Linked DNA regions of Homo sapiens: all the other regions are linked to region 6. Evidence: fine-mapped expression QTL. A gene starts in region 6. Each other region holds a variant in brackets. All regions are shown on one strand. Distances are between the middles of the regions. Region 1 overlaps FBXL13 (F-box and leucine rich repeat protein 13). Region 2 overlaps NAPEPLD (N-acyl phosphatidylethanolamine phospholipase D). Region 3 overlaps FBXL13 (F-box and leucine rich repeat protein 13). Region 4 holds the start of ORAI2 (ORAI calcium release-activated calcium modulator 2). Region 5 overlaps FBXL13 (F-box and leucine rich repeat protein 13). Region 6 holds the start of ARMC10 (armadillo repeat containing 10).

The links. PIP is the estimated chance that this variant, and not a neighbour inherited with it, causes the effect.
Region 1: its variant is fine-mapped to the expression of ARMC10 in whole blood (TOPMed, PIP 0.99).
Region 2: its variant is fine-mapped to the expression of ARMC10 in whole blood (INTERVAL, PIP 0.98).
Region 3: its variant is fine-mapped to the expression of ARMC10 in whole blood (TOPMed, PIP 0.96).
Region 4: its variant is fine-mapped to the expression of ARMC10 in spleen (GTEx, PIP above 0.99).
Region 5: its variant is fine-mapped to the expression of ARMC10 in whole blood (TOPMed, PIP above 0.99).

Annotation. Positions count from the first base shown.
Region 1 is chr7:102,925,792-102,931,087 of GRCh38, forward strand. It overlaps FBXL13 (F-box and leucine rich repeat protein 13), which reads right to left. Exons shown (of 21, transcript NM_001394494.2): 11 at 483-583. The region is part of intron 1 of LRRC17 (leucine rich repeat containing 17); the gene reads left to right. Among named protein-coding and RNA genes, the nearest start is that of LRRC17, 15 kb to the left of the region's middle. The variant A/G (reference allele first, on the strand shown) is at 2,371.
Region 2 is chr7:103,103,653-103,108,814 of GRCh38, forward strand. All of the region lies in intron 4 of NAPEPLD (N-acyl phosphatidylethanolamine phospholipase D), which reads right to left. Among named protein-coding and RNA genes, the nearest start is that of ARMC10, 31 kb to the left of the region's middle. RefSeq lists an enhancer at 2,062-2,931. The variant A/C (reference allele first, on the strand shown) is at 1,979.
Region 3 is chr7:102,992,237-102,997,532 of GRCh38, forward strand. All of the region lies in intron 7 of FBXL13 (F-box and leucine rich repeat protein 13), which reads right to left. Among named protein-coding and RNA genes, the nearest start is that of NFE4, 21 kb to the left of the region's middle. RefSeq lists an enhancer at 1-479. The variant C/T (reference allele first, on the strand shown) is at 3,199.
Region 4 is chr7:102,428,582-102,433,877 of GRCh38, forward strand. It overlaps ORAI2 (ORAI calcium release-activated calcium modulator 2), which reads left to right and starts at 4,994. Exons shown (of 4, transcript NM_001126340.3): 1 at 4,994-5,080. RefSeq lists silencers at 2,761-3,055, 4,454-4,593, 4,624-5,296. The variant G/A (reference allele first, on the strand shown) is at 2,449.
Region 5 is chr7:103,029,774-103,035,069 of GRCh38, forward strand. All of the region lies in intron 3 of FBXL13 (F-box and leucine rich repeat protein 13), which reads right to left. Among named protein-coding and RNA genes, the nearest start is that of FBXL13, 42 kb to the right of the region's middle. The variant G/A (reference allele first, on the strand shown) is at 3,112.
Region 6 is chr7:103,073,147-103,078,442 of GRCh38, forward strand. It overlaps ARMC10 (armadillo repeat containing 10), which reads left to right and starts at 1,994. Exons shown (of 7, transcript NM_031905.5): 1 at 1,994-2,265; 2 at 2,631-2,735. The coding sequence starts at 2,127. It overlaps FBXL13 (F-box and leucine rich repeat protein 13), which reads right to left and starts at 1,650. Exons shown (of 21, transcript NM_001394494.2): 1 at 1,550-1,650. The coding sequence starts at 1,624. RefSeq lists a silencer at 1,581-2,420 and an enhancer at 2,691-2,740.

The sequences.
Region 1 (5,296 bases), 150 kb before region 6:
ATAGCCAGGCGTGGTGGTGGGCACCTGTAATCCCAACTACTCAGGAGGCTGACGCATGAGAATCGCTTGGACCCGGGAGGCGTAGGTTGCCATGAGCTAAGATCATGCCACTGCACTGCAGCCTGGGCGACAGAGCAAGACTCTGTCTCAAAAAAAAAAAAAAAAAAAGGTCCCAGACACCAGACTGGAATGTAAGGGCCAGAAAGCTTGAATGCCCAGAATGGGGGACCAGAAAGAAGCAGGCAAAGTCTAACTCAAGCTACTGGGCACATTGCTGTAAGAGTCACAAAAATGCTAGCCAAGGCAGACCAGTTCAGGCACCAGCTTAGGGACTTGAAAGCAGCAGACCCCTTATCAGAAAAGCAGTGCCACAGTGGTGGGGTGTTGATAAAGGGAGCACTGCCCTTGCAGAATGCTAGAGCAAGCCAGAGACTTTGGGAGCATAATTTTTTTCAGTGTCATACAAATAACACAAACATTACCTCGGCAGGAGTCGCATCGTCCTGTTGGTGATAGTTGTGTTAGACAGATTGAGACACAGGACCCCCGGGCAGCCCTCAGAAATGTGTCTCATTGATTCATCCTGCATGAAAAACAGAGGGAAGAGGCTTATCAAATTATAGCAGGCTTTGCAATTTCCCCATTATCTTTCTATTATCCCTCTTCCTGTTCCAGAAAAAAATACATGTAAGAGTTGGTTTCTTCATATTCTTTATCTACTATTAGGTTGAAATGAAATTAAATAGAAGCCAATGCTTTTGCTCAAAGCATCATTACTCCCTCCTTTTCCCTTTCCTTGGAAATCAAGTCTCATTCCATCACAATGACACTTCATTAAAATGTGAACCCATGCAAGTTCAACTCTGTCACACGAAATTTGAGCTCACATGTCAAAGTGCCAAACACTTCTGACTCTTCATATGCAGGAAAGCAATTAAAAACTGATCCATTTTAAACTTATTAAAATTATTCTGAAAGGCATACTAAACACTCTCAACAATGGAACTTTAGTAACAGTCCATATTTATACACATATACATTTATACATAGATGTGTGTGTATAATTAAGCTTCTGTGGTTCTGTTAACTAAATATTTTAAATAGCTGAACAGATTTTCACCAGATTTATGGTAAGTTTGAGATGGCTAAAATAAAATAGAGGCTACATACCAGTTGGGCAGGAGATTCAATGCTGGGAGTAGGGTGGGGGAGGATCTCAAAGATTCAAGCATCCTTCCCCCAGAAAGCTGAAAACTGAAGTAAGAGAGTAGTGGGACCATGAAATAAGAGAGACAGAAAAACAGAGGTTTCAAGCACAGATTCTAAGTTGAAATTTACAAGACCAGATGAATTGCAAGCTTTGACTGCAACAAGCTGCTTTTTGTATAGGTAACACTATATAAAATACAACGAGTAGCAGCAGGTTTTTATTTAATGATTGATGAATCTCCCCAGGAACATCAACAGGGCAGCCAGTTTAAGTATTAGTGGTGCATGCAATGTTTGACGCTACATCAGTCCCAGAAAGAATAGACCACTGCAGGTATCTATCTGTCTGGAAGAGGTAAATCATTACTAGGCTAGAAGATGTGGTTCTGAGAAGAATTCTGCATCAGAAATATGACCACTCCTAACACCACTAAAGATAGTAAAGGCTTATTTTCAACAGGATCATTGAGGTTTAACATTCCATTCATTACTATTTCCAGTAGTCATGGATTTTTAAAACAATAAAATCCTGCAGGTCAGAGCATCTGTCACACTCAGATAGGAATTGGTTGATTTACAGGGGCAGCAAACCACACCTTAAAGAGAACACAAGATTCTATTTGAAGCTGTAAATCTCTGTGATTCTGCTATAGGGAAGGTTCTATGCACCCATGCTGCATGAGAGGCCAGTGCAGAGCTTTTGATAAACACTACTCTTAACTACAGTATTCAAGCTGTCAGCATTTTTTCTAGATGCCCCATCACCAAAATGAAGGATTTGAATAGGTATGGATAGATAAAATGTGTACAATTTTTCCAAAAAGAATCTAGAGAATAACCACGTGTGGCACTGTATTTCAACACAATGAAAATCTGTCTTTGAAAACGTTTGGCATGCCAATCAAGTATCAAAGTGATTATACACTTGTTGAAAGACCTTGGCAAAATGCAAATGAGATGGGGCAAGGAAAGGAGAAAGAGCTCACTTAAACACCCTCAGAGAGGCAGCCACAAAGATGAAAATGTGGGGACCAGGAAGAGGAAGGTGGAGTAGCTTTATGTATCATAAAGAAATCTGACTTTCTGTTTGAGATGAGGAGGCAATCCATTCTTTGCATTTTCCTGTCTAAAGAAGCTTGGACATCCAAACAAAATTAGACC[A/G]CTCCCATTCTCAGATTGAGATGAGGAGGTAATGCATTCTCTACATTTTCCTGTCTAAAGAAGCTTGAACATCCAAACAAATTTAGACCACTCCCATTCTTAGTACTTAAAAGAACTCAAGATTTAATCCCCAAATGTTTGAACACATAAATGCAAAAACTGAGTACCTACATTGCAGAATGACTTATGAATTTGTCCACAATGTACTCAAATCTTTCTGAATGTAATATATTTCATAGGATAAGCTTAGAAATCAAAGCTCTTCGAATGAGTGTTACCCAACTCCTTAAATGTAAGCCTGTGTCCCAGTCTACGTCTCAAAGGGAAAAACAATAGTAAAATGTAGCTGGATAAAATTATCAGCCCTGTATATTATTAGACTCCAAAATCGGACAAGACTTTGATGTTCACAAATTCAATGCATTGTTTTGACTTCCCTATTAGAGGGCCAAACTCAAAGAATATGATATCTTACTCAAGTACACAACTGAAGCTCCCTGAGGACAAGAACTGAAAAATGATTAGTTTTTTAATTCCCTCCAACACCTAGCAGAACACATTTAACATAGTAGGTGCTAAAACATCCACAGAAAGAGTAAATCCATTTGACAAACAACTTCATTATAATGACAGGCAGACATCTGGAGAATGTAGTAGTCAAGATTTAAAATCCTTCTTCATGAAGGAGCCCACGTTCACTTTGCTAGTGGAGAAAGAGTGCAACCAGAGAAAGCAGAACATTTTTTTCTCTGATGTGATATTTGACATGTCTGTCTATGCCTCCATTTCTTGCGGATGACCCTGAAGGGTACTTTTGAACATAAAGGAACAGCTTATTTATGTTAAAGTACAAGCCACTGAGAAGATGCTTAGTTTACAGTCTATGGTGGTTCTTTATGTTCTGCTGGACAGGGATTAAACAACTAATTTAAATGCTGACTCTGTGTGTTGAGGTAAGGAGTGGAGGAGTTCTGAGGGTCTTAACATTCTTCTGTACACATTCTATTTGTGTATAATGCCTTCCATGTTTTGAAAAGATGTTTTACTGTGGAAATGGGATGGATTTCATGGGGAAAAATTACTAAAGGAGGATTTTCAAAGTGCTCAGTTCTAAAACGGGAGATACATATGTAAACATAAGTGTAATACAGTGTGAAGTATCTGTGTTGAAGTACTGAGACCATATGTAGCTCAGAAGAGGGAGAAATTAATTCTGTCAGCTGGGTGCGGTGTCTCACGCCTGTAATCCCAGCACTTTGGGAGGCCGAGGCGGGTGGATCACTTGAGCTCAGGAGTTCGAGACCAGCCTGTCCAACATGGTGAAACCCCATCTCTACAAAAAAAATTCAAAAATTAGCCAGGTGCAGTGGCACGTGCCTATAATCCCAGCTAATTGGGTGGCTGAGGCAGGAGAATCACTTGAACCTGGGAGGTGGAGGTTGTAGTGAGCCACGATGGCACCACTGCACTCCAGCCTGGGCAACAGAGTGAGACTCCATCTCAAAAAAAAAAAAAAAAAAAAATTAATTAAGTTAGAAATTAACTGTCAAAAAGTGAACAGAATTGCATAGGGCCGGGGGTTGAGAGAAAATGAAGGGTGACTGTTGATGGGCATGGGTTCTGTTAGGGGTGAGGGAAATGTTCTGAAGTTGGTTGTGGTGATGGTCAAACAACTCTGTAAAAATACCAAAACCATGAAATTGTACACTTTAAGTGGGTAAATTTAATCTCAATATAAATATAAATTTATTATATCTCAATAAAGCTGTTTATTAAAGGTCAATAAACAAAGAGAATGGAAAGACCCGATAGCATTGAAGAGTGTGTTAAAGAATGAACAGGTGTTAGCCAGTTTGGGCTAGGGGTGGTGGGGAGGGAAGGGTAGTCATTTAGGCAGATGGAAAAACAAGTTCAAAGACACAATGAAATAGCATGACATGAACAGGGAACTTCAAGTGGTTCAGTATTGAAATAGAGTAGAATTTTGAAAGAAAAAACTAGAAAGATGAGGCTGTAAAAATGAGGCTGAGAGGTAGCAGGGAGGGGCCAATTCATGCAGTCTTTTCACCAGCGAGGAGGGCTTGGCCTTCATGGTGGAGCTGGTGCCTCATGATTGGCATTCCACAGCCAGGCTTTTCCTCCTATTCCCTCCTATCTCGTTAGGGACTTACTCCATGAGTTGCTTCAGCTGACTCTCCATCATCCTCTATAAACCTGTTTCCATTTCCCTGCCCCTGTTTTCCTTCTACCACTCTCTAAGACACTTTTCTGGAAAGATCAGTTTATGCCTAATGCCTCACCTTCTGACCTCTTCTCCACTTCACAATTCATTGCAAGTAGATTTCTGCTCCAATATCCCACTGAAACTGTTGAAGCAATAATTGGCAGTCCCTTCTGATTCTCAAATCTACAATGCATTGTTCAGTCCTTTTCTTACCTGTTCACTTTGGTTCTTTCTGAAACTCTTTACTCACTTTCATTTTGTGATACCTCTTCATTGTCAACCTACTTCTCTTACTATTCCTTCTGAATATCCTCTGTTCCTAAAAGTCAGCATTCCGTAAGGCTCAACTTTAAGTCTGCTCCTCTTCTCAAACCTTCTAAGTTGATCTTATTCACGCTTATGATGTTAATTATGACTTATACATAGATGTCAACCCAAGATGGAATCTCAATTCTAGTCAATGTTGTCCATTGCCTACTTGGTATCTCCAGATAGTTGCATTCACTAAATATTATTGAATATAATATGCCAAAGTTCGTGCTGTTGTGCTATGACTACCACAAAGAACAAGACACATCTCCTGCCCTTTGGGTCTCTTAGGCTAGTGAAGGAAGCCAAAACCCTATGGTTAAGGATACTTATCATAGGAACCTAGAGGAGCAGCAGTGAACCCAGCCCTGGGAGCCAGTGATGTCTTGGTAG
Region 2 (5,162 bases), 30 kb after region 6:
GTTAGAATTAGGCCCTTTCTTTTAATTGAAGCATTAGCAAATGGGTCTATCACATTTTCTAATACAGTTTTGAGTCATGAATTAAGTCAACAGGTATTTGGTTGGATAGAAATCATGCCAACACCATGTATGTGAAATTTGGTGCCATCTTACTTTGAACATCACTGGATTGCATGAAATCATCACGGTTTCACCATATGAAATTCCAATCTAGATGGAATCAGTGCCAAAGATGATGTTATTAGAGAATTACATGTTACTAACATTTTTGAAAAATATAGAAATCAAATTGTGGTGTGTGTGTGTGTGTAACCAAATGCTAGAGCAAATTGTTTTGCTGAAGAAGGGTTGTTATCCTCAAAAAGTCTAGTCACATACAGAAACCACAGTCTACAGAATGAAAGAGGATCCCAGAGAATATGAAGGTTGAGCTCTGTGTGGCAAAGAGGAGTCAAGATTTTGCCCTGAGGAATTGCTAAATGGGAGTCACCCTTTACTGAGATGTTTGAAAAGTAAGCTTGAGGGAAGATGAGAAAGTTTAATTTCAGACTTTAGTTCTAGGTACCTAATGGATATCCAAGTGGAGATGTGAAGGAGACAGTTGGATATATAAATGTGGATTATAGAAGAAAAACATCTGAGCTAGAGAGGAACAGCAGGTAGGTGGTATTTGAAGCCATAAGACTGGATGCGATTCCCAAGGGAGAAACCAACTACAGAAGAGAAGAGGTCCGTGGACTGACTTCTACGGCACGCACTGTTCAGAGCAAGCGGAGAGGAGGGACTAGCAACAGAGAATAAGGGACAGCCAATGATGTGCAAGGAAAACCAGGCAAGTTTCCTGAGCCCTTAAATGCACAGGTTTGGTAACAGTTGTTGGCCACACACAGGTCATCCTTTTCCCCCTTGCTCAGTTCCAGGTTTTATGGCTATGTTTAAAGATAAAGGATACCTTTCAACTGACTACTGAGTAAGTTTGGTTTTAACTGTATGCTGGTTATCCAATATTCCTAGAGCTAACCCCTTAGTAATGGATAGTTGATAACAGGAATTTACTTTTAGTCTATTTTATATATAAAGAAAAAAGATCACTAATTATATTACAAATAAAATTTAACTTTATACCCTAAGTCAAGAAATTTCCCCTGAAATAATTTCCTAAATTATTTTAAGAGATTTCAAAATGATGAGCTTTTTTCCCATTGAAAAATAACTTCTTTTGTTAAATTCTCTTTCTCCCATGCTGTACAAGTCTGGGCTAACAGTACACACTCACAGAATCACCCTACGTCAGTAACTTATTTGCTAAGCTATAACTTTAGTGTGGAGGGCGATGTTTGCGTTTAGTGAGAATTCTGATATGTTAGAGTTGGCAGTAGACCCTCTGTCTTTAATCTGCCTAGATTTAGCAGTATCTTTCTGAGTTTCTTCACAGACCAATTCTTCGCTGTTTCAACCATCTGGAAGATAACCCTGGAGGTAGGTCTGAAAGGCTTCTGAGTGACTGAGAGCTCACAGTCCAAGCACTTTAGTCCAGAAGGGAGATAAAAATGCCCCATAACCATGGGACAAAACAACTACATATAAAGCAAAACAGCAGATCAGAGATCAATATGAGTAAATGGGAAAAGCAGAAGACTCCGAGCATTCTGGATCCATTAGGGTCTAGGCAGCTAGCCACACACAACTCGTAAATTCCTAAAGGGGTCAGTTTCATGATATACAACAATAGAATATATTCAAAGTAAAGACCCGGATCACTTGAAAGGCAATGTACATATTATGTAATGCTTGAAACTCGTTTCCATCAAAACTAGTAATTTAAGTTTTAGTGCTTAAATATATGTAGGAAATGCACTCATCATTCCCTAGATAAATTAGATGTTGCCATATATGCAATTTTAGAGTATTGCCAAGTTAAGGACATCCTTAATCTGCTTATATTACACGAGGCAGCTACTATAACAGCATATATGCA[A/C]AGAGTGTTAAAGTGTTTAGAAGTCATGGGTAACTGGCTGGGTGCAGTGGCTCACGCCAGTTAAGGCTGAAGCGGACGGATCACCTGAGGTCAGGAGTTTGAGACCAGCCTGGCCAACATGGCAAAACCCTGTCTCTACTAAAAATACAAAAATTAGCCAGGCATAGTGGCCGGCACCTGTAATCCCAGCTACTTGGGAGGCTGAGGCAGGAGAATTGCTTGAACCCAGGAGACGGAGGTTGCAGCGCGCCGAGATCGTGCCACTGCACTCCAGCCTGAGCAACAGAATGAGACTCCGTCTCAAAAAAAAAAAAAAAAAAAAAAAAAGGCTGAAGAGGAACAGCTCTGGTCTGCAGCTCCCAGTGAGGTCTACACAGAAGGTGGGTGATTTCTGCATTTCCAACTGAGGTACCTGGTCCATCTCATTAGGGCTGGTTAGACAGTGGGTGCAGCCCACGGAGGGTGAGCCAAAGGAGGGTGGGGCATTGCCTCATCCAGGAAGAACAAGGGGTTGGGGAATTCTCTCCCCTACCCAAGGGAAGCCATGAGAGACTGTACGGGGAGGAACAGTGCACTCCAGCCCAGATACTGCACTTTTCCAATAGTGTTCGTAACAGGCAGACCAGGAGATTACCTCCGGTGCCTGCCCCACCAGGGCCCTGGGTTTCAAGCACAAAACTGGGCGGCAATTTGGGCAGACACCAAACTAGCTGCGGGAGCTTTTTTTTTTTTTCATACCCCAGTGGCACCTGTAATGCCAGCAAAACAAAACCGTTCACTCCCCTGGAAAGGGGGCTGAAGCCATGGAGCCAAGTGGTCTGGCTCAGCGGGGCCCACCCCCACAAAGCCCAGCAAGCTAAGATCCACAGGATTGAAATTTTCGCTGCCAGCACAGCAGTCTGACCCTGACCTGGGATGCTTGAGCTTGGTAGGGGGAGGGGCGTCCGCCACTGCTGAAGCTTGAGTAGGCAGTTTTCCCCTCACAGTGTAAACAAAGCCACTGGGAAGTTCAAAGTGAGCAGAGCCCACTGCAGCTCAGCAAGGCCGCTGCAGCCAGACTGCCTCTCTAGACTTCTCCTCTCTGGGCAGGGCATCTCTAAAAAAAAAAGGCAGCACCCCAGTCAGGGGCTTATAAATAAAACTCCCATCTCCCTGGGACAGAGCAACTGGGGGAAGGGGTGCTGTGGGCGCAGTTTCAGCAGACTTAAACGTCCCTGCCTGACAGCTCTGAAAAGAGCACTGGTTCTCCCAGCACAGCGTTCGAGCTCTGATAAGGGACAGACTGCCTCCTCAAGTGGGTCCCTGACCCCTGTGTATCCTGGCTGGGAGACACCTCCCAGTAGGGGCCGACAGACATCTCATACAGGAGACCTCTGGCTGGCATCTGACGGGTGCCCTTCTGGGACAAAGCTTGCAGAGGAAGAAACAGGCAGTAATCTTTGCTGTTCTGCAGCCTCCGATGTTGATACCCAGGCAAACAGGGTCTGGAGTGGACCTCCAGCAAACTCCAGCAGACCTGCAGCAGAGGGGCCTGTAAGAAGGAAAACTAACTAACAGAAAGGAATAGTATCAGCATCAACAAAAAGGACGTCCACTCATAGAGCCCACCTGAAGGTCACCAACATCAAAGACCAAAGGTAGATAAATCCACAAAGATGGGGAGAAACCAGCACAAAAAGGCTGAAAACTCCAAAAACCATAACACTTCCTCTCCTCCAAAGGATCACAACTCCTCACCAGCAAGGGAAGAAAACTGGACACAGAATGAGTTTGATGAATTGACAGAAGCAGGCTTTAGAAGGTGGGTAATAACAAACCCCTCCGAGCTAAAGGAGCGTATTCTAACCCAATGCAAGGAAGCTAAGAACCTTGAAAAAAGGTTAGACAAATTGCTAACTAGAAAAAACAGTTTAGAGAAGAACATAAATGACCTGATGGAGCTGAAAAACACAGTAAGAGAACTTCATTAAGCATACACAGTATCAATAGCCGAATCGATCAAGCAGAAGAAAGGATATCAGAGATTGAAGATCAACTCAATGAATTAAAGCGAGAAGACAAGATTAGAGAAAAAAGAGTGACAAGAAATGAACAAAGACTCCAAGAAATATGTGACTATGTGAAAAGACCAAATCTACACGATTGGTGTACCTGAAAGTGATGGGGAGAATGAAACCAAGTTGGAAAACACTCTTCAGAATATTATCCAGGAGAACTTCCCCAACCTAGCAAGACAGGCCAACATTCAAATTCAGGAAATACAGAGAACACCACAAAGATACTCCTCAAGAAGAGCAACCTCAAGACACATAATCGTCAGATTCATCAAGGGTGAAATGAAGGAAAAAATGTAAAGGGCAACCAGAGAGAAACTTCAGGTTACCCATAAAGGGAAGCCCATCAGACTAAGTTACCCATAAAGGGAAGCCCATCAGACTAACACCAGATCTCTCAGCAGAAACCCTACAAGCCCAGAAGAGAGTAGGGGCCAATATTCAACATTCTTTTTTTTTTTTTTTTTTTTTTTTTTGAGATGGAGTCTTGCTCTGTCACCCAGGTTGGAGTGCAGTGGTGCAGTCTCAGCTCACTGCAACCTCCACCTCCCGGGTTCAAGCAGTTTTCCAGCCTCAGCCTCCTGAGTAGTTGGGATCACAGGCGTGCGCCACAACACCCAGTTAATTTTTGCATTTTTAGTAGAGACGGGGTTTCACCATGTTGGTCAGGCTGGTCTCGAACTCCTGACCTCATGATCTGCCCGCCTCAGCCTCCAAAAGTGCTGGGATTACAGGCGTGAGCCACCACGCCCAGCTCAACATTCTTAAAAGAATTTTCAACCCAGAATTTCATATGCAGCCAAACTAAGCTTCAAAGCGAAGGTGAAATAAAATCCTTTACAGACAAGCAAATGCTGAGAGATTTTTGTCACCACCAGGCCTGCCTTACAAGAGCTCCTGAAGGAAGCACTAAACATGGAAAGGAACAACCAGTATAAGCCACTGCAAAAACATACCAAATTGCAAAGACCATCAACACTATGAATAAACTGCATTAACCAACAAGCAAAATAACCAGCTAACATCATAATGACAGGATCATATTCACACATAACAATATTAACCTTAAATGTAAATGGGTTAATGCCCCAATTAAAAGACACAGACTGGTAAACTGGATAAAGAGTCAA
Region 3 (5,296 bases), 81 kb before region 6:
GTTAAAACCCATCTCCTAAGTGGATACTCAAGGCCTCAACAACGCAGACCCAACCCACCTTTCCAAACACATCTTGTTACTGTCAACTTAAATTCTCTATCATCTCCTTTTTACAAATGAGACAATTTAGAAACAGAAACATTAAGCAGCATGCCCAGCCACAGCTGTCACACAGCTAGTGACAGAAGCGGCCACCCAGACTCCAGGGCACATTCTCCCCATTTCCATGTGGCTGCCTCTTACTGGGGTATAGTTTTTTGTCTTTCATATGCTAGATCATTTTGCAAGGGTGGTCCTGCTAAAATTAATAGAACTGCTTCTGCAATTTAAAAGTCATGAAAACTTTAGATCAAAATCACTTGTAAACTTTTTCCCTTTTTGGGAGGGGGATGGGGTCTCACTCTGTCACCCAGGCTGGAGTACAGTGGCACAGTCACAGCTCACTGCAGCCTCAACCTCTCCAGACTTAAGCAATCCTCCCACCTCAGCCCATCGAGTAGCTGGGACTACAAGACATACGCCAGCACATCTGGCTAATTTTTGTATTTTTCATAGAGACACAGTTTTGCCATGTTGCTCAGGTTTCTCTGGAACTTCTGGACCCCAGCGATCCACCTGCCTGTGCCTCCAAAAGTGCTGGGATTACAGGCATGAGCCACCACGCCCAGCCTGTAAACACTTTAACAGAGACAGCGATTAAGACTAAAGTGATGAAAGTGAGGTCTATGGGTAGAGCAATGTTCCACCAAAAATCAACTGTTCCCAAAGTGACTTCTAGATGTTTTGTTTCATTTGCTTTTTCACCCACACCACAACTTGAGCCAATATCCACATACTTCCTTGATAGAGCAATGTGGTTGTGGAACCTTTCCTTATCTGAAGTTCACACAGTACACAGCTATGAAACCTGGAACCACTGTCTGCATTGGTGAAATGAGGTCAGACTGACCCCTGAGGTTATCAAAACATAGATCTGAAAAGTCACTGGGAATATTCTTTTGTTTTACAAGTAATTCTAAGTAATTTAATCAAACAGGCCTGAACCATCTGGCTCTTTTACAACATGGTACTAGTTTTAATAGCTATCCATGTTTCTTTTCTTCCCCAAGTGAGAAAATGAGTCATCAACACAGTAAAATCTGAAGGTGATTTTATAACCGTTTGCAAGTCCACATGACATATATCTTTTACAAACAAGAAGTCATAGTTGTTTAAAATGAAGACAACCCTAAAGCAACACTTACATTATTAAACTAATCAAGTAATTTTACATTTTAAGAAACTGCATTACTTAACTATTTTAGAGTTTCCAAATTCATCAGCATAAGGCTTTTCTCTGTGTTGCTTGCCAAACTACACAGAAGGAAAAAAAAAAACCAAACTTGTATTTTCACGGAAAACAGTCTTTGCCAACCCTCCCACTAGCTCTAAGTTTGGCCAACAGTTTGACTGATAGTGTATGAGCCCTACCATCTGCTAACTAAGCAGCATTTCCTAACGGGTAAATGATACTAAGAAAAATGGTTGCAAAACAGAACCTGACTTGTTTTCATGAGTTGATGTAACTGAACCTAAAATGCAAGACTACAGTTTGTTATGTGTATTCTAAGAAAGTTCAAATTGTATCCCAATCCAAATTGCTGGTTTCAATTATTCCTTCAAAACATTAAACAGCCTGTATATAAAAAACCTCAATTTATTTAAAAAACTAACACTTCTAACCATTTTAAATAAGGTTCAGACCAAATTCACATCACATTTTTGTTTTCACACCTTTCCTTCTCAAGTCCCTGAGTTAGTGAACCAGATTAAATGCCATTTAAAAAGTATGATTTAAAAAATTAACTTTGCAAATCTATTATACATTAATAAGCATAACAAACCCAACCATTCAAGATATTAGTCTTAGAATAATTAACTTATATGTTTATATGCTATTATATAAATCTACTCTTATTACTTGTGCATTTTTAATGAACATTCTGCACATTATTTGGGGAAATTTTGAGGATATCTATAAAAATAATACTGGCTTTTTTTTCTGTCATATCAAGATTTAGTAACTTTAAAAAAGTTACCCTTGTTTTTTTAAGGACAGGACAACTAAACAGATGTATAATATTCTTAATTATTGCTTTTTGTCTCATGAAATATTAATATATATTCTATTTCTTTAGAATTCTCCAAGAGGAAAAAAAAAAGATATAGAGGCTATAAGCTTAGCCAAGGACACAGAAAAACCAGGTCCTGCCCTCAGTTTTGTAGTTGTCTGACTTTGGGGATGTGAAAAAAGTTATCTGAAAAGGAATTTCGAGAAGAGAGACTTTATTCCAGTGAACAGTTTCCAAACGGGGAAGACAAACCCTTCAGTGGAAACAAAAGATACATTAAAGAAAAAAGGAGGGTTTCGCTTTTATAGTTAAAATTCCCACCCAGCTTTCCACTCAGGTCCTCTTATGCAAATACAGAATTCAAACTGGCTTAGTTCTGATTGGTTGACACTTGCAGAGTTCTGATTGGTCAATGCTGCTGGCTTCTGATTGGTCAGTGCAGGCTACACTCTATTGGTTGGTTCAGGCCACGTGGACAGAAACTGTTAGCTATGACAACCCCAAAGTTAAGCAGATGTGTAGGTTTTCTGGGAACTCAGAGTATGTGTGTGAGCTCTAGTCAGCAAATGGCCACCTGACTCTATTTTAAATTTCAGCCCAGTTAGGTACTCAAAACTCATCTTGAGAGATTGGCTCTTTCAGATTCGCACATAAAATTTCTCAGATCCACAGCTGTCCCTCTTGTAAAAGGTAAAAGCTTAGCACAAACATCTCTAAGCTGTCTTCTAGCTTGATCATGCTATGGTTTGAGCACTCTGGTAGACTTTATAAATCTGGGCCCCAAAGGGCTCTACTTTATTTCCCATGAGCATGGGGGAAGCTGGGGTGAGAGAAGGCATTAAAAGCATAGTCAGCCAGGCACGGTGGCCCACGCCTGTAATCCCAGCACTTTGGGAGGCCAAGGCGGGCAGATCACGAGGTCAGGAGATCGAGACCATTATGGCTAACATGGTGAAACCCCATCTCTACTAAAAATACAAAAAATTAGCTGGGCGTGGTGGTGGGTGCCTGTAGTCCCAACTACTCGGGAGGCTGAGGCAGGAGAATGGCGTGAACTCGGGAGGCGGAGCTTGCAGTGAGCTGAGAT[C/T]GCACCACTGCACTCCAGCCTGGATGACAGCGAGACTCCATCTCAAAAAAAAAAAAAAAAAAAAAAAAAATAGGCCGGGCACAGTGGCTCACGCCTGTAATCCCAGCACTTTGGGAGGCGGAGGCAGACGGATCACAAGGTCAAGAAATTGAGACCAACCTGGCCAACATGGTGAAACACTGTCTCTACTAAGAATACAAAAATTAGCCAGGCGTGGTGGTGTGCACCTGTAGTTCCAGCTACTTGGGAGTCTGAGGCAGGAGAATCGCTTGATCCCGGGACGTGGAGGTTGCAGTGAGCTGAGATGGCGCCACTGCACTCCAGCCTGGTGACAGAGCAAGACTCTGTCTAAATAAATAAATAAATAAATAAATAAATAAATAAAGGCATAGTCATAAACCATAACACCATACAGAAAGTAATCTTTAAAATGCAAAAACTGGCAATGATTTCTACTGTCCTGAGCAACATTCCCCAATTATTCTACACATTTCCCATATTCTGAAATGGTTTTCCCAAAGTGAACCTAAAACTTAGATTATTCCAAACTCTTTGCTATTAGTTTAGGGTTTGGTGGGAAAATGGGGGTGAGGTAGTTTTAAAGATCAAAGGCCAAGAGGGCTGAAATTGCTCAAGGTCATATTGCTAGTAAACAGTTGAGACTGGATTTAAACCCAGTTCTCCCTGAGTCCTGAGCCTGGACTTTTAATCAATATATTGTCAAACTAAAAGATTGCTGTTGAGAAAATATGTAAGTTCATAGTTTGTCATAATGGTTGCTGTTTCCATATACAAGCTTTTCTAGGCCCTGGATCCCATTATGAAATGATTTGCTAGACTGTGGGTGCTGTGGTTCTTCAGTAGTTGGCTTTTTTGTTCTCTGAATTGTTCACCACAGGGGTCTGGGATAGGAAAGAGCATTAGACCAGAGTTCATTTGCAGCACTGATATAATGACTTATTAAACACTTGCTTACTTCTTATCTGCTGTGATTGTTCCTTTGTTGTTGTTTTGCCTTTTTACTGCAACCTAAACAACATCTTTTCTGGCAAGGAAAAATGCCCTTTTAGATACTGATGACTGGTAGTTCAAATCCACATTCAGTGAGACAGACTATACTGATTAACTCACTCAAACTCCACCCAAAGTCCTCTCCTCCCCAGCAGTTTAACAAGGCCTTGTGACAAAGTTCTAACCTAAAACACATCAATGAAATTCCTGACTGTGGGAATTTGGGGAAACTTTGGATTTCCTCATAAACAAATCAACAAACATCTTGCCTTTACCACTGTGCTTTTTCCCCTCTCTGGCCTGGTAAAAGAACATGAGGCTGGAGGTGGAGTAGACATATTGCAATCATAAGACAAGCAAGAAGATCCTAAGGACTGTGGACTAACAAGATAGAAAGACTTCATTTTTATTGGTATTGTGGATGACTGGCCTTGGACTGCTTTTCTCTGCACATTGTGTAATATGAAACAAATAGCCCTTATTTCTTTAAGTCTTACCATTGGTTATATTTTATTATATTGATAGTTGAAGACAGTGCTCACTGATATATTTGAGAATTACTAGACCGAGAGATCCATAAAAAGAAAGATGATGTGTTCATAAAAAACGTGAAGCCTTAAGATTTTCCAAAACCTTATCCCTTTATTCTTCTGTTCCAACCAGCACTAGAATATTTTTATAGTTATTGAAAGCTTGCCATTTATGTCTATTCATCAATAACTGCTTAGAGATTTTACTTTCAGACACAAAATGAATGACCGCGGAAAACATTCATGCTTTTATTATAGATCTGCACCATCTTTCTTAACATTGGATTAGAACACCATGAAGTAATTTCTCTTTTAAAATGGATACATAATAGTTGTACATATTTTGAGGGTACACGTGATATTTTAATATATGCATACAATGTGTAATGATCAAATCAGGGTAACTGGGATATTAATCACCTCCAACATTTATCTTTTTATGGGAAGACTCCAGTTCTTCTCTTCCAGCTATTTTAAAATATACAATAAATTATTGTTAACTACAGTCACCCAACTGTACTATCAAACACTAACTCTTATTCCTTCTATCTAACTGT
Region 4 (5,296 bases), 640 kb before region 6:
CTGTAACCCCAGCACTTTGGGAGGCCTAGGCAGGAGGATCACTTAAGGCCAGGAGTTCAAGACCAGCCTGAGCAACATAGTGAGCCCCACATCTCTAAAAAATAAAAATTGAAAAGTGCACCTGGCCTAGTGGCATAGTCCTAGCTACTTCCAAGGCTGAAGTGGGAGAATCACTTGAGCCTGGGAGATTGAGGCTGCAGTGAGCCATGATTGTGCTGCCGCACTCCAGCCTGGGTAACACTAAGACCTTGTCTCAGAAGTAAAAGGCTGGATGCAGTGGCTCACACCTGTAATCCCAGCACTTTGAGAGGCCAAGGCAGGTGGATCACCTGAGGTCAGGAGTTCGAGACCAGCCTGGCCAACATGGTGAAACCCCATCTCTACTAAAAATGCAAAAATTAGCCGGGCATGGTGGCCAGTGCCTGTAATCCCAGCTACTGGGGAGGCTGAGGCAGGAGAGTTGCTTGAACCTGGGAGGCAGAGGTTGCAGTGAGCCAAAATGATGCCACTGCACTCCAGCCTGGGCAACAAGAGTGAAACTTCGTCTCAAAAAATATAATAATAAATGAAAAAAAATAGCAAATGTTTATTGAGCACCAACTAAGTGCAAAATCCAAGGGATTCCAAGGCCCATTGCTAGGCACTGGGGATGGTGGTGGACAAGACACAGTCCTTGCCTTCAGGGGGCTCCAGGTCTGAGCAGGAACAGGATTGGGGAGAGCAGCACAGCCTGCTGTGTGGGCACCTGACCCAGGCCTCTGCGAAGGCGAGCGCTGAGCTGAAGTCAGGTGGCTCAGGAGAACAAGAGTGCCCAGAAAGCGAGCTGGGGAGGGAGGAGGCGCCCTGCCATGGCCTCAGACCCTGTTAATCAGGGGACTGGAGTCTCAAAGGCCACAGGGTAGGGGCTGGAATGGAGAGACATGGGGGACCTTTGAGTTTGTGGAAGGGGACAGGGCTCCTGCCTTGCCATGCAGACCAGAGGTGATGGTGGCCTGAGTTAGTGCAGAAGCAAGTGGGGACAGGGAGAAGTAAGGGAGAGTCCAGCAATGTGGAGGTGGGAGAATTGTCACGACCCGATGGGGAGAGGACTCATGGGTGCCAGCAGCTGAGTGGGTGAGGGAACCCTTCTGAGACAGCTGACCCAGGCGGTGGGGCAGGAATGCGAGGGAAGATGACAGATTCGGCTGTGGGCCTGGTAAAGTGGAGGGCCCTAGGCATATGTGCTGGGAAGAGAGATCAAGGCTGAAGGTGATGATGGGGTTGTCAGGCTGCCCTGGTCCTTGGAACTATGGGAGTAGATGAAACCAGTCAGGGAGGAGCAAAGAGAGGAGAGGGACCCAGACAGAACCCTGAGAATCGCATATCGAGGGGACAGAAAATGGGGGGACAAGCAGGCAGACTCACTGGAGCCAAGGAACAGGGTTTCCTGGTAGAAGGAGGGGTCCCCGATGACAGGGCTGACAGCTGAAACATCCTCTGGGTTTAGGCAGGCAGATCAGCTGAGGTCAGGAGTTGGAGACCAGCCTGGCCAACATGGCGACACCCCATCTCTCCTAAAAAATATATACAAAAACTTGGTGGGCGCCTGTAATCCCAGCTACTTGGGAGACTGAGGCAGAAGAATTGCTTGAACTCGGGAGGTGGAGGTTGCAGTGAGCCAAGATCATGCCATTGCACTCCAGCCTGAATGACGAGCGAAACTCCATCTCAAAAAGAAGGAGCTATTATAGGCCAGGCATGGTGGCTCACCCCAGTAATCTCAACATTTTGGGAGGCTGAGGCCGGCAGATCACTTGAGGCCAGGAGTTCGAGACTGGTCTGACCAACATGGTGAAACCCTGTCTCTACTAAAAATACAAAAATTAGCCAGGCATGGTGGCCCGTGCCTGTAATCCCAGTTACTTGGGAGGCTGAGGCATGAGAATCGCTTGAACTCAGGAGGTGGAGGTTACAGTGAGCCAAGATGGCACCACTGCACTCCAGCCTGGGCAACAGAGCAAGACTCTGTCTCATAAATATGATAGAGAAAGAAAGGAAAGAAAAAGGGAGGAAGGAAGGAAGGGAAGGAAGGAACGAAGGAAGGAAAGGAAGGGAGGGAAGGGAGAGAAGGGAGGGAAGGAAGGAACGAAGGAAGGAAAGGAAGGGGGGGAAGGGAGAGAAGGGAGGGAAGGGAGGAAGGGAGGGGAAAGAAAGAAATGAAGGAAGTGAGGGAGGGAGGGAAGGAAGGGAGAGAAAGAAAAGAGAAAAGGAAGGGAGGGAGGGAAAGAAAAGCAAGCAAGCAAGCTATTCTGTGTTTGGTTAGGAAACCAACTCTGCAAAGCACTGGCAATTACAACTTGCATTTTGCTTCTGTCTGGGCATGCTGGATAAATATGCCTGTGGGGTGGCGGCATCAGTAACGGGCACAGGAAGCTTTCTCAAGGATGAGTGAAGTCGCTGCAAGAGTGA[G/A]AATTCAACAAGCAAAGGACTCCTTTGCTGAAAGCACATTCATCTATGATGCAAACTACTGCGTTTACAAAGTGTTTTCTTCCTGTTTTGTGTGTGTGTGTGTGTGTGTGTGTTTTGAGACAGAGTCTTGCTCTCTGGCCCAGGCTGGAGTGCAATGGTGTGATCTTGGCTCACTGCAACCTCCGCCTCCCAGGTTCAAGCGATTCTTCTGCCTCAGCCTCCCCAGTAGCTGGGACTACAGGCGTGCGCTACCATGCCTGGCTAATTTTTGTATTTTTAGTAGATATGGGGTTTTACCAGTTGACCTGGCTGGTCTTGAACTCCAGGCCTCAGGTGATCAGCCTCCCAAAGTGCTGGGATTACAGGCATGAGCCACCGAGATTCATTTTACCAAGAACTCCACGTTGGAAAGCCATAACATGATTGCTTTTTGAGGACTTTACCCCTGAAATTCAAATGTTCCCTCACCCATAGCCATTGATGGGGGTGGCAGGAGGAGGGCCAGTAAGGAACCCTGGGATTTGCTTATGTCCATGTTAGGGCCTAACTTGCCTTTTAGGTCAGTAACCCGGAGGGGGAAACCTGGTTTATTAGACTAAGTGTCCTCCTGGTTTCATTCTGGCTGTCAGCAGTAGCCTGTAAAAGACAACTCGAAGTGTAGATGGATTTAACCTGGCGTCCGTAACATCTACTCTTCCAATTGTCATAAAATGTGGGCTGGCTGACATGAGTGGAATTTTTCCTTCGTTTGGATAAATGTGTCACGGTCCAATGCTGTTGTGACAGATGGAAAAATCCTATGTAGGGCACGCAGCAGCCTACCCGGCATGGAGGAAGGACTCCAAGGGACCGTCTGGCACCGCCGGGCTGATAGGAACCCATCTTGTCTGTCTGTGAATTATTCATGTGCTGCACTTCCTGAAAAGAATGCTCCTGTTTGACTGCCTCGCTCGTAAAACCGCAGAGAATTCACCGTTAAAGGTGAGAGGCTCCCTGCAGTAGGGAGTGGAAGGGGCCAGGGCACAGCAGAAACTCTTTGCTGCTGTCTGCGAACAGCATGAGAAGGACAGCACGCTGCACTGAAGTTGGGACCCCAGGGGTCTCGCTGGGTCTGTGAGTGGCAGTGCACTCTGGGTGGCAACCCCCAATTAGCTCAGTGCAAGCTCTTCATGGTGCCATCCAACACCCTGGGCAGGGGCCAAGCAAGGTGGCCCATGCCTCTATGCCCAGCACTTTGGGAGGCTGAGGTGGGAGGATCACTTGAGCCCAGGAGTTCGAGACCAGCAGAGGCAACATAGCAAGACCCATCTCAATTTTTTTAAAAAATTTAAAAATTAGCTGGACATTGTGGCACATGCCTGTAATCCCAGTGCTTTGAGAGGCTAAGAGAGGATTGCTTGAGGCCAGGAGTTTAAGACCAGTCTGGGCAATACAGGAAGACTCTATCTCTAAAAAAAGAATTTTTTTTTTTTTTTTTGGCTGGGCACAGTGGCTCACATGTATCATCCCAGCACTTTGGGAGGCCGAGGCAGGCAGGATCACCTGAGGTCAGGAGTTCAAGACCAGTCCGGCCAACATGGTGAAACCCCATCTCTACTAAACATACAAAAAAGTAGCCAGGCTAGTGGCGTGCACCTGTAGCTCGGAGGCTGAGACAGGAGAATCGTTTCAACCCCGGGGTCGGGGGTTGCAGTGAGCCAAGATGGCACCACTGCACTCCAGCCTGGGTGACAGGGCAAAACTCCCTCTCAAAAAACAAACAAAAACAAATTTTTTAAAAACTACCACGGTGTGGTGGCTCCTGCCTACATGTAGCCTCAGCACTTTGGGTGACTGAGGGCAGAGGATCACTCGAGCTCAGGAATTCGAGGCTGCATTGAACCGTGATCGCACCACTGCAGTCCAGCCTGGGCGACAGAGCCAGACCCTGTCTCAAAAAAATAAAAAAAAAAATCCTGTGAAAACTCGGGCGTGGCCAGACGGATTCTCCCCTCCCCACCTTCCTTTCCCCTCCACTGCCCACCTGCACCCGCCCGCCCTGTCCCCACTCCCCGCCCCTCTACGCAGCCAGCGTCCAATGCTGGGCACCCCCCGAGGCTCACCCTGCCAAGCCTGGGGCTCCCCTTTTGCGCCCGGACCCAGGGGCAGGGAAAGCCCAGCTCGTGGTCTGTGGGTAGCCGGACCCCCGATGGGGCGGTGGGGGGCCTCGCCTTGACTCCCAGAGCTGGGGCCGGGGACAGGAGCTGGGGCAGGAGGGATGCGCGCGGGTCGGGGTCTTCCCACCTCCCCTGCTCCTCTCCCTCGCGCGATCCCGGGGTGGTTCCAGGTGAGGCGGGGACCCCCACCCCCCCACTCTCCGAGGAGGCGCCGCCAGCCCCGCCCCTCCCGGCCCGGCGGGTGACGTGGCCGCGGCTCTCCCGCGGGTGGGTCACGTGTTGGCGGCGCCTGGTTGCCTTGGCAGCGGCTGCGGCGGCCGCGGGGGCGGGGTGGAGGCGGGGCCGGGGGACCCCGCGCGACCGGCGGAAGGAGGGAGGGGGCCGCGCTCGGCGCCCCGGCCGGGCCACTGGGCCACAGGCCACGCGGCCACGCAGTCCGAGCGGGAGCCGAGCCGGGCGGGGCGAGGGCAGCTCCGGTGAGTGTGGCGGCGCGGGGGCCTGGCGCGGGGAGCGGGGTCCCTGCGGCTGGGGGGGCCGGAATTGGACCGGGGACGCTCGGCGGGGAAGGGGACGACTGTAGGCTGCCCGGGCGCGGTCACTACCCATCCGGGGTTGGTGACCTCCACCCCGCGGGATCCCTGGCGGGGTGCGGCGCCCAGAGGATCAGGGTCGGCGGCGCAGCCGGTTCCGGA
Region 5 (5,296 bases), 43 kb before region 6:
CTGAATCAAACAGAATGATTTTTTTCAAGGATATAAACTGAGATTCTCTTTTCAACATAGAGGAATTCCTCATTTACCAAGCAGGAATAGGAAAACCACATAAATGAAAAGTCTAAACTGTGGAATATGCTTAAAGAGATGCAAATTTATCACTTACAACTATTCACAATAACATGTGGCAACAGCTAACTGAAATCATCTATACCTTCTGTGCATTCTTTAATAAGTAAAGATATTATTATATTAACATAAGTATTATATGCACATGGCTACTGTTAAGTGTTAATGGTGTTTTCCTCTTATTTTGTTGCCCCTTTGCTTACTATATAGATATACAAACATATGGTCACATCTATTTGGTGTATAGGTAAGTTTGGTTCAAATCTATACCAACAGCCAGGAATTCTGAATTCTACTTTTCTAAGGCAAATGTTTTCTCCTTTGCACATTGCTGTAAATACTTTGTTAAATTAACAGATATGGCATACACATGTTCATCATAGATTTATTTTAGGCATACAAGAAAGGCCCATAGGACCCCCGACATGTGAAAATCCTCACTTTTGATGGAGATTAAATGCAAATTATGCCTACAGTGAGGGACAACATAAACGATTCAAGTCATTCTTCACTAAATTCAGATTTTTATAGAAGAAAGGAATCCAGATGAGTAAAGGAGTATTGAGGATATTACAGCAGGCAGAATAAAAACCAAGAAGGGGATGAGGTGGCAAAGGCAGACAAATTTCACTAACATTACAATTTTTCAGTACTGTTGTAGGTCCCTAAATTTCATGAGCTTAATTCTTTTTAGATGATATTACCTGAAAAGTCCTAAATAAATAACTACAGTAAATGATATGTCATAAAAATATGAGTATATTATATGACCAAATGAATGTAGTTCAAAACATTATAGTAATAATGATTTTGAAAAGAATTATTAAAATTCAGCAAATACCATTTGAACTCAAGTTTTCTTTTCTGATGATCAACTCTTTAAAACAGCATAAAAGCATTTTCTATTCTATTATTGAAAGAAGTAATTTAAATCCTCATTAATTCATGATTTATAATACACCAGAATTTTTGTTGTTCTAATATTCATTTTTTAAGAGTTTCTCTTCATAAATTTTTATTTTAACTTTACATTTATTGTTCTCCCAGTTTGCAAGGGAGGGAGGGAGCGAGGGAGCGAGGGAGGGGAAAGGAAGGAAAGAGAGAAAGAAACAAACTCACAATTTTTCATTATTATTATTATTGGTATATATTCTTTTCTTCACAGGGAAAAGCAAGTTTAAGAGAGCATCTCCAAGGGACTAATATGCAAGAGGACTCCAGCCCAGTAATGCCCCATTCCCCACTTAGGGGTGGGCATGTGTTGACTTCACTGCAGCTCCAAGGAATCTCTGGCCAATCCAATCACTGGGCACATGTCTGGACCACTTAGTCACATGGCTTCACTTCCTCCATTTATGTTTCCACCATCCACACTCCAGCCAATGGCTTCCCACCCTTCACAGTCGCTGCATATTGTTTAACTGCTTCTGACTGAAAAATATTCTTCCTCTCACCTTTTAATTCCAGCTGGCAGTGTTTTGCACAGAGTAGGAGCTCAACAAATATATATGTATTGATCCATCAACAGAATTAGAAAACTGCTTAAATGCAAGCCAATTCTCCACCATCTGACTACCACAAATGGAGGGCAAAGGATTCTGGTAACAACTTTGTGGGCAAGTCAGTGGATAAACAGCAAGTTAGTGCTGGCTACAGATGGCCTCAGAGTACCCTCACATAACACTCACACCACTAGTGCTGCTATCCCCAGACACCCGTAGTTACAAACAAAGTGAGGGAGGAATGGACAGTGCATCACAATACGATTTCTAAGAGTCCAGGTACACTGAAAGGTTAATTTCTAGTCTGGAAATAAAAGAAAAAATTCTACCATAAGAGATGATTTTTAAAGTTAAAGAGTGGGAATGTGTAAATAAATAATGAATTCGTTGCAAAAGATTTTTCATAGTATTAAGTTAGGGTTTAACACTACTTTTTTAGGCCAGTGGCCTACAAGAAGCCAGTTGGAATCAACTGCAAAACTTGTAAACTACCCAGGCTCACTTCCCAAGATTCCTTAGCCCTCCACTCTTACCCTCTCTAGGAATTACTGCTGTGATTAGTCACTATTATGACTAAGAGTATGTCTTATTCCTCATGTACACTGGGGACAGAAGAATGTTAAGTCCCAAATTTTAAGCTGAGTTCCAGCAGCATACAATAGCACACACACTAGTTTCAAGGAAACATGTTTTTATAGATTAGGAGAGAAAAAGAAGTGAAATATAAAACTGATTTCTTTTTGAAAAGATATTATATGTAGCATGATTACAACCCAGTCCTAAAAAAATAGCTTATAAAAAAATTTCATTCCTCTGCCAGGGTTGGAGGAAAATAAGATTTAAAATTTCAAACTTACAGAGAAATAAAATAAACACCTAATACCCACAATCCATGTTTAACATTGTCAACATTCTGCCATACTTGCTTTTTCTATTTTAAAGTATATAAATTAAGACATCATGACATTTCATCCCCCAAATCTCATAATATCCATCTCTTAAAAAATGAGTACCTTTTCTTTGCAACCACAATTCCATTATCCTGCCTTAGACACTTAATAGTAATTGCTTAATATCATTGTACCCATGCCATAGCCAACTCTCTGGAATTGGCCTCCAAATGTCTTACACGGTTTGTTCAAACTAGAATCCAGACAAGGACCATATATTTGCATTGCAAACTCAGTTGATGCGAGGATTTCAATAGCTACAGAAAAAAAGTTTTAGTTTTTCCTTCTCCTTTTCTATATTTTCAACATTTAATGAGTATGAGGTGTGGAGGTGGGATAACATTGGCCTAAATCTAATGGATTCTGTTACCTGGGCCTGTCTAATATTACATTCTAAAAGTCAGCCAGGCATGGTGGCTCACACTTGCAATCCCAAAACGTTGGATGGCTGAGGTGGGAGGATCCCTCGAGCTCACGACTTAAAGAGTAGCCTCGGCAACATAGTGAGACCTTGTCTCTGCTAAAAATAAAAAATTAGC[G/A]GGGTGTGGTGGCATGCACCCATAGTACCAGCAACTTGGGAGGTTGAGGTGGGAGAATCACTGGAGCTCAGATAGAGGCTGCAGTGAGCAAGCTATGATTGTGCCACTGCACTCCAGCCTGGGCAACAGAGTGAGACTCTCTCTCTCTGTCTGTCTGTCTCTGTCTCTCTCTCTCCATCCCCCCATACACACACACATACACACTCACACACACAGAGTTCTAAAAGTCAATTTAAATATTTTTGACAGACAAGAGACTAAGAAAGGTTTTTTTGTTTGTTTTTTGTTTTTGTTTTTCTTTTTTTTCTTTTCCTATGCTCTGAAAGAAAGACAAGAATGGGGATGGGGTGGGGAGCCACATGTCATCTGTCTCTGCCACCTGAATCAGGGGTCTGAGTCTTAGGGAAGAACAAACTGCAGGCAGAATCCAAAAGAACTGCTCCTATGAGGCACACAGCACTATTTGTGCAATACAAAGTGAAGGAAAGGCATTGTGTCCAGAATTGGTGGGTTCTTGGTCTCACTGACTTCAAGAATGAAGCCGCGGACCCTCGCGGTGAGTGTTACAGTTCTTAAAGGCGGCGTGTCTGGAGTTTGTTCCTTCTGATGTTCGGATGTGTTCGGAGTTTCTTCCTTCTGGTGGATTCGTGGTCTTGCTGGCTCAAGAATGAAGCTGCAGACCTTCCCGATGAGTGTTATAGCTCTTAAGGCAGCGCGTCTGGAGTTGTTCGTTCCTCCTGGTGGGTTTGTGGTCTTGTTGGCTTCAGGAGTGAAGCTGCAGACCTTCACGGTGAGTGTTACAGCTCATAAAGGCAATGTGGACCCAAAGAGTGAGCAGCAGCAAGATTTATTGCAAAGAATGAAAGAACAAAGCTTCCACAGTGTGGAAGGGGACCCCAGCGGGTTCCCAATGCTGGCTCGGGCAGCCTGCTTTTATTCTCTTATCTGGCCCCACCCACATCCTGCTGATCGGTAGAGCCAAGTGGTCTGTTTTGACAGGGCGCTGATTGGTGTGTTTACAATCCCTGAGCTAGACACAAAGGTTCTCCACATCCCCACCAGATTAGCTAGATACAGAGTGTCGACACAAAGGTTCTCCAAGTCCCCACCAGAGTAGCTAGATACAGAGTGTCGATTGGTGCATTCACAAACCCTGAGCTAGACACAGGGTGCTGATTGGTGTGTTTACAAACCTTGAGCTAGAGACAGAGTGCTGATTGGTGTATTTACAATCCCTTAGCTAGACATAAAGGTTCTCCAAGTTCCCACTAGACTCAGGAGACCAGCTGGCTTCACCCAGTGGATCTCGCACTGGGGCTGCAGGTGGAGCTGCCTGCCAGTCCTGTGCCGTGTGCCCACACTCCTCAGCCATTGGGTGGTCGATGGGACTGCGCACCGTGGAGCGGGGGGCGGCGCTTGTAGGGGAGGCTAGGGCGGCACAGGAGCCCATGGACGGTGTGGGGGAGGCTCAGGCATGGCGGACTGCAGGTCCTGAGCCCTGCCCCACGGGAAGGCAGCTAAAGCCCAGCGAGAAATTGAGCACAGCAGCTGCTGGCCCAGGTGCTAAGCCCCTCACTGCCCGGGGCCAGTGGGGCCGGCTGGCCGCTCTGAGTGCGGGGTCCGCTGAGCCCACGCCCACCCGGAACTCCCGCTGGCCCGCAAGCACAGTGGGCAGCCCCAGTTCCCACCCACGCCTTTCCCTCCACACCTCCTCGCAAGCTGAGGGAGCCGGTTCCGGCCTTGGCCAGCCCAGAAAGGGGATCCCACAGTGCAGTGGCAGGCTGAAAGGCTCCTAAAGTGCCGCCAAAGTGGGAGCCCAGGCAGAGGAGGCGCCGAGAGCGAACGAGGGCTGCGAGGGCTGCCAGCACACTGTCACCTCTCAGCATGTCCCCCACTACTGTACAGCACACAGAGTACAAGGCCATCAAATTTAATGTGACTTTAAATTTTGCAAACTTAAACTAATGTGATACAAAATATATTACAAAAGTCTTACATTATGCCAGTTTTTGAAAAAACACAATCTTTCAAATTAAAATTTTACTGAGAGGTATTTCCTTTCAAAGCTGGTGGGAAAACGAATTAAAAGTTTAAGTATTGCCACAAAGTGGTACTATTTTGGCAGGTAAACAAATGCGGCTTTAGTCTTGAAGTATGAGTTTGAGTTATTAGCAGTCTTCAGAAA
Region 6 (5,296 bases):
CAAGACATCTGTTATTAACAGTTTGGCATAGGTTCTATGCATGCACTATTGTCTTAAAGCTAGATATATACACATATATGTACATAAACACATATACAACATATATGAAATCAAATGGACAGCTAGAGCAGAATGGACAGTTGCTAAGCAACTTGCACTTTTTCTTTTTTACTTAATAATATGTGTTGGGAGCCAGCCATGTGGTGTATGCCTGTAGTCCTAGCTACTTGGGAGGATGAGGTGGGAGGATCAATTGAGCCCAGGAGTTTGAGGCTGCAGTGAGCTAGGATGGAGCCACTACACCCTAGCCTGGGTGGCAGACCAACACCCCGTGTCTCAATAATAATGATGATAATAATAATATGTCTTGGAGGACATTTCTTCTTAGTAGGTACAGATATACTTTATTCTACATAATGCCTCATTCGCTTAGTCACTCTAGGTCATTTACTATTTTTACTATGAAACAAAGTTATAATGAATATCCTTGTACATCCTCCTGAACACATGTGCAAGTATTTCTCTAAAGTAGATCCCTAGAAGTAGAAATGCTTGGTTAAAGGGTACATGTATTTAACATCTTAATAAATATTTCTCAATTACCATCCAAAAAAGAGACGGGTGGGGGGTCTCTACCAAATTGCCCTCCCAACCGCCTAGGAGCGTTACTACCCTCAGGTAGGACCTCCTCTTTCTTTCCCTAGACATCTCTCTCCCTCATTCTCCACATAACGTATCTTTGCTCGAACCTCCTACTGCACCAACATCCCCATCCCCACTCAAACACGCACATTCTTGGTAAATATCTCACCAACTATTTGTAGAGAAAAAAAGAGGTCAACAAAGGCAAATGTTCTCAGCTTCCTACCCCCAAACCTACAAAACCTAATGTCTATCCCCTTCCTGTCTTCCTTCCCTACTCTTATAACGGCAGTAGGAGGGCAGTCCTTCCTGTTGTCTAAAGGCAATCCTGGTTGAGAGGGTCCTTACCTTCACAAAGGGCTGACTACACTGACCAAAGGTCTCAGCTTCCACTCTTCCCTCCGCTAACCTCCATCTATTTTCTGCCCTCACGGCTCCATGGAAACCTCAGGCTCACCTTGGGCAGAATCCAGCTCCTTATCTTAGGTGACTAGTGCCTACTCCCTACTTCTGACAACATTCTTCATAATGCCAGTCTGCTGATTTTCCTCCTCAGGCTCTCTGGCACTTCTTTCTCACTCCTCCACTCCTCAGGTACTTCTTGTCCAAACCTTAAAATCTGAGTTTGGGGTTTCCGATCTGGGCCTTGTGCTCATTCCCCCTGGGAGATGTCACCCATTCCCCACGTGCAGCCACCATCACCCTCTGTTTTCTCTCTAATCAGCGTCTTCAGCCCTGATCGCCTACAAGTCCGAATTTGACTTCACTTTCTCGCATTCTGCCCCGCCTTCCCTCCACTCCTCCCCAATCCCGAAACCTAGTCCCTCCTCCGGGAAGTCTTTCCTGACTCCTCCCCCTTCTAACTCCCCACCGACGGTCTGTGTCCGCTGCCACGCGTGTCCAGTACCTCGCAGACCTGAGGAATGTAGTTCTCCTTGAAGTAGTTCTTCAGCCTCGGGTTGGCATTGCGTAGCGAGGCCATGGCCCAAGGCCTGACGGAGAAGCTGCGATAGTACCCTCCCCGCGCTGGGACTAGGGGCCGGGCGCGTGCGGGCGTTGTCCCGGCAACCAGGGGGCGGGGCTGGGCGTGGCACCGCCCCGCGCTCCGCTGCCAGGGGCGGGAGGGAGGAATGGTTGCTTCACGCCCCGGGGGAAGAGACGGGAAGCTCGGCTCTGGGTTGCGGGCCCCGGCGTCTCCGCGTGGGGCGCACCGTCCGACCCCCCCCTCCCGGTGTGCAGCGCCCCGCACCGCCCCGCCTCGCCTGGGAGAAGCCGCCGGGACGCGCCGGGCTGGAGTGGGCGGTTATAGGCTTTGAGCTAGGCCGTTTCCGGGAGGCGGAGCTCAGACCCCATTTCCTTTCTCCACATCCAGGTCAGGTGGCGTTTGCTGTGGCGGCTAGGCCCGCGTGCGCTGGAGACCTCCGCGCTGGCCCCCGCGAGCCTCCTGCCCTGGCCCGGCGCTGCGGCTCTGCCGCGGCGGCAGCATGGGTGGCCCCCGGGGCGCGGGCTGGGTGGCGGCGGGCCTGCTGCTCGGCGCGGGCGCCTGCTACTGCATTTACAGGCTGACCCGGGGTCGGCGGCGGGGCGACCGCGAGCTCGGGATACGCTCTTCGAAGTCCGCAGGTGGGACCCCGGGGTTTCCGGCAGGTGGGCGGGGACTGGGCAGGGGGGCTCCCCAGGCCGGGGTGGTGGCTTGCGTGTGCTCGGGGTAAAATGAGGAGCCGAGCTAGAGGGAGAGGCAGTACTTGTGTGAGTGCAGGGTGCTGCGCCGCCCCCGCCGCCCCTTTGCTGACTATACTGGTATGAAAACTTGCCCTGGCTTTCCTGCCTGAGCTCCGCGTCACAGCGGAGGATTAGATTTCTTAAAAACCTGTTGATGGCCTCTCATTTTAAAGCTTGCTCCGGGCCTTTGTGTAACTAAAGGGATTCTCCCGATTGTGGAAGGGCTGTTGAGGGGCCCAGAGCCATAGGTCAATCTCTGCTTGCAGGTGCCCTGGAAGAAGGGACGTCAGAGGGTCAGTTGTGCGGGCGCTCGGCCCGGCCTCAGACGGGAGGTACCTGGGAGTCACAGTGGTCCAAGACCTCGCAGCCTGGTGTGTGTTTTGGAAATGGGAACAGTTGTCTGCGCGAGACACACCCTCCCAGCGGACAAATGCATGATTCGGTTTCTGTCCAAAAGTTGATCGGTACATTAAAACCCTCCAAAGGCATGTTTCACATCATGGAAGCTGTTAGGGAAATAATTTAAAATATCATATCTGCCATCCAAGAAACTCCTGTCCACAATTGTAGAAGAGAGCTAAACAGCTTCATTGTTGAATAAGCACAAACTAAATTGCCTCACACATCACGGGCAATTTGCTAATGGGATAGCAGGAAGAATTCTAATTCCTTTAAATGTAGCTGGACAGATAGAACCGATTTCATATTACATACGTGTTCTCAAGATAAAAAATAATTTGTCCTTAGGTAAGAGGACTTGACAGTACCATTTGCTACATGTAGTTTATCCTGAATTTACTGGTAATTGGGGTGGTTGTTATCTAATTGCCTTTATCCAGAGGAAAAATAAAAATATCTTTATGATGTGGAACCAGGTGCCCAGGCTAAAAACTCACAGAGTTGGGGAGATTGGGGATCTATCTTCCTGGAAGAGTAGGTTTCAAAGAGTACGCTTTCGAACAGTAGGCTCCAAAGCTTTTAAGAAAGTCTTTCTTGGGCTGTAAAACTGGCCAAATGCTTATTTCACTTTTAAAAAGATTTACAGGCTGGGTGTGGTGGCTCACACCTGTAATCCCAGCACTCTGGGAGGCCAAGGCAGGCGGATCATGTGGTCAGGAGTTCAAGACCAGCTTGACCAACATGGGGAAGCCCCATCTCTACTAAAAATACAAAAATTAGCCGGGCTTGGCGGTGGGTGCCTGTAATCCCAGCTACTCAGGAGGCTGAGGCAGGAGAATCACTTGAACCCAGGAGGCAGAGGTTGCAGTGTGCCAAGATTGCACCATTGCACTCCAGCTTGTGCGACAGAGCAAGATTCTGTCTCAAAAAACAAAAAACAAACAAAAAGATTTACATTTGTATCAAAGAAGCAGAAAAAGGAGTTTTGTTTTGTTTTCAGACAGGGACTCCCTCTGTCACCCAGGCTCGGTGCAGTGGCGCAATCACAGCTGCAGCGGCGCAATCACAGCTGCAGCCTCCACTTCCCTGGGCTCCTCCCACCTCACCCCACTAAGTAACTAGGACTACAGGTGCACACCGACACCTGGCTAATTTTTCCAATTTTTTAGGAGATGAGTTTTCACCATGTTGCCCAGGCTGATTTGAACTTGGCTTAAGCAGTGCTCCTGCCTCAGCATCCCGAAGTGCTGGAATTACAGGATTGAGCCTCCTCACCTGGCCAATAAAGGATTTTTAATTACAAGTTTGCACGAGGGAATGCTTTAAGAAAAAGGGAGTGGAAGGGGAAGGTCTCTCTCACTTTTGCCACTAGGTATAATTCAGCTTTTTTTTTTTAAAGATTTGTATGTACCCTTACTGTATTAGTCCATTTTCTGTTGCTTATAATAGAATATCTGAAACTGGGTAATTTATTAGGAAAGAAATTTATTTCTTAGAGTTATGGAAGCTGAGAAGTCCAAGATTGAGGGGCCGTAGCTGGTAAGGGCTTTCTTGTTGTGGCATAGGGCATCCCAAGGCCAGAGGGGCAAGTGTGTTAACATGCTGACTCAGGTCTCTTGTTCTTATAAAGCCACCAGTCCTGCTCATTAATCCATGAATGGATTAATTCATTCATGAGGACAGACCCCTCATGATCCAGTCACCTCTTAAAGGCCTTACCTCTCAATACTGCCACATTGGGAATTAAGTTTCGACATGAGTTTCGCAGGAGACATTCAAATCATAGCATTTACAAAGCCTAATTTGTTGTCTTTGCCCATGTCAGAGATATTTTTGTATAAGTACATTGGGAAGGTGTCCTGGACTCAGATATCTTCTCAGTTATACTGACTCAATCTGATGAATGTGGACAGTCTTTTAAACTTAACAGTTCCCATAATCATCATTATCTTAGGTAAGGCAGCTTAAAAAATAATTTGCTCACAGTCCCTTCTTCCTGAAGCTACTCCTTTATCATTGAAGAAGACTTGAGAAATGCTCATTTCATCATCAATATGGTTTGGCTTTGTGTCCCCACCCAAATCTCATCTTTTTCTTTTTTTTTGAGACGGAGTCGCACTCTGTCTCCCAGGCTGGAGTGCAGTGGCATGATCTCAGCTCACTGCAACCGCCACCTCATGGGTTCAAGCGATTCTCTTGCCTCGGCCTCCGGAGTAGCTGAGATGACAGGTACACACCATGTGCCTGGCGAATTTTTTTTGTATTTTTAGTAGAGACAGGGTTTCACCATGTTGGCCAGGTGATGTGCCTGCCTTAGCCTCCCAAAGTGCTGGAATTACAGGCATCAGCCACTGTGCCCGGCCCAAATGTTATCTTGAATTGTAATCCCATAATCCCTACATCGTGGGAGGGACCCGGTGGAAGGTAATTGAATCACGGGGGCAGTTCCCCTCCCCTCCATGCTCTTCTCGTGATAGTTCTCAGGAGATCTGATGGTTTTATTAGGGGCTTCCCCCTTTGCTCTGCACTCCTT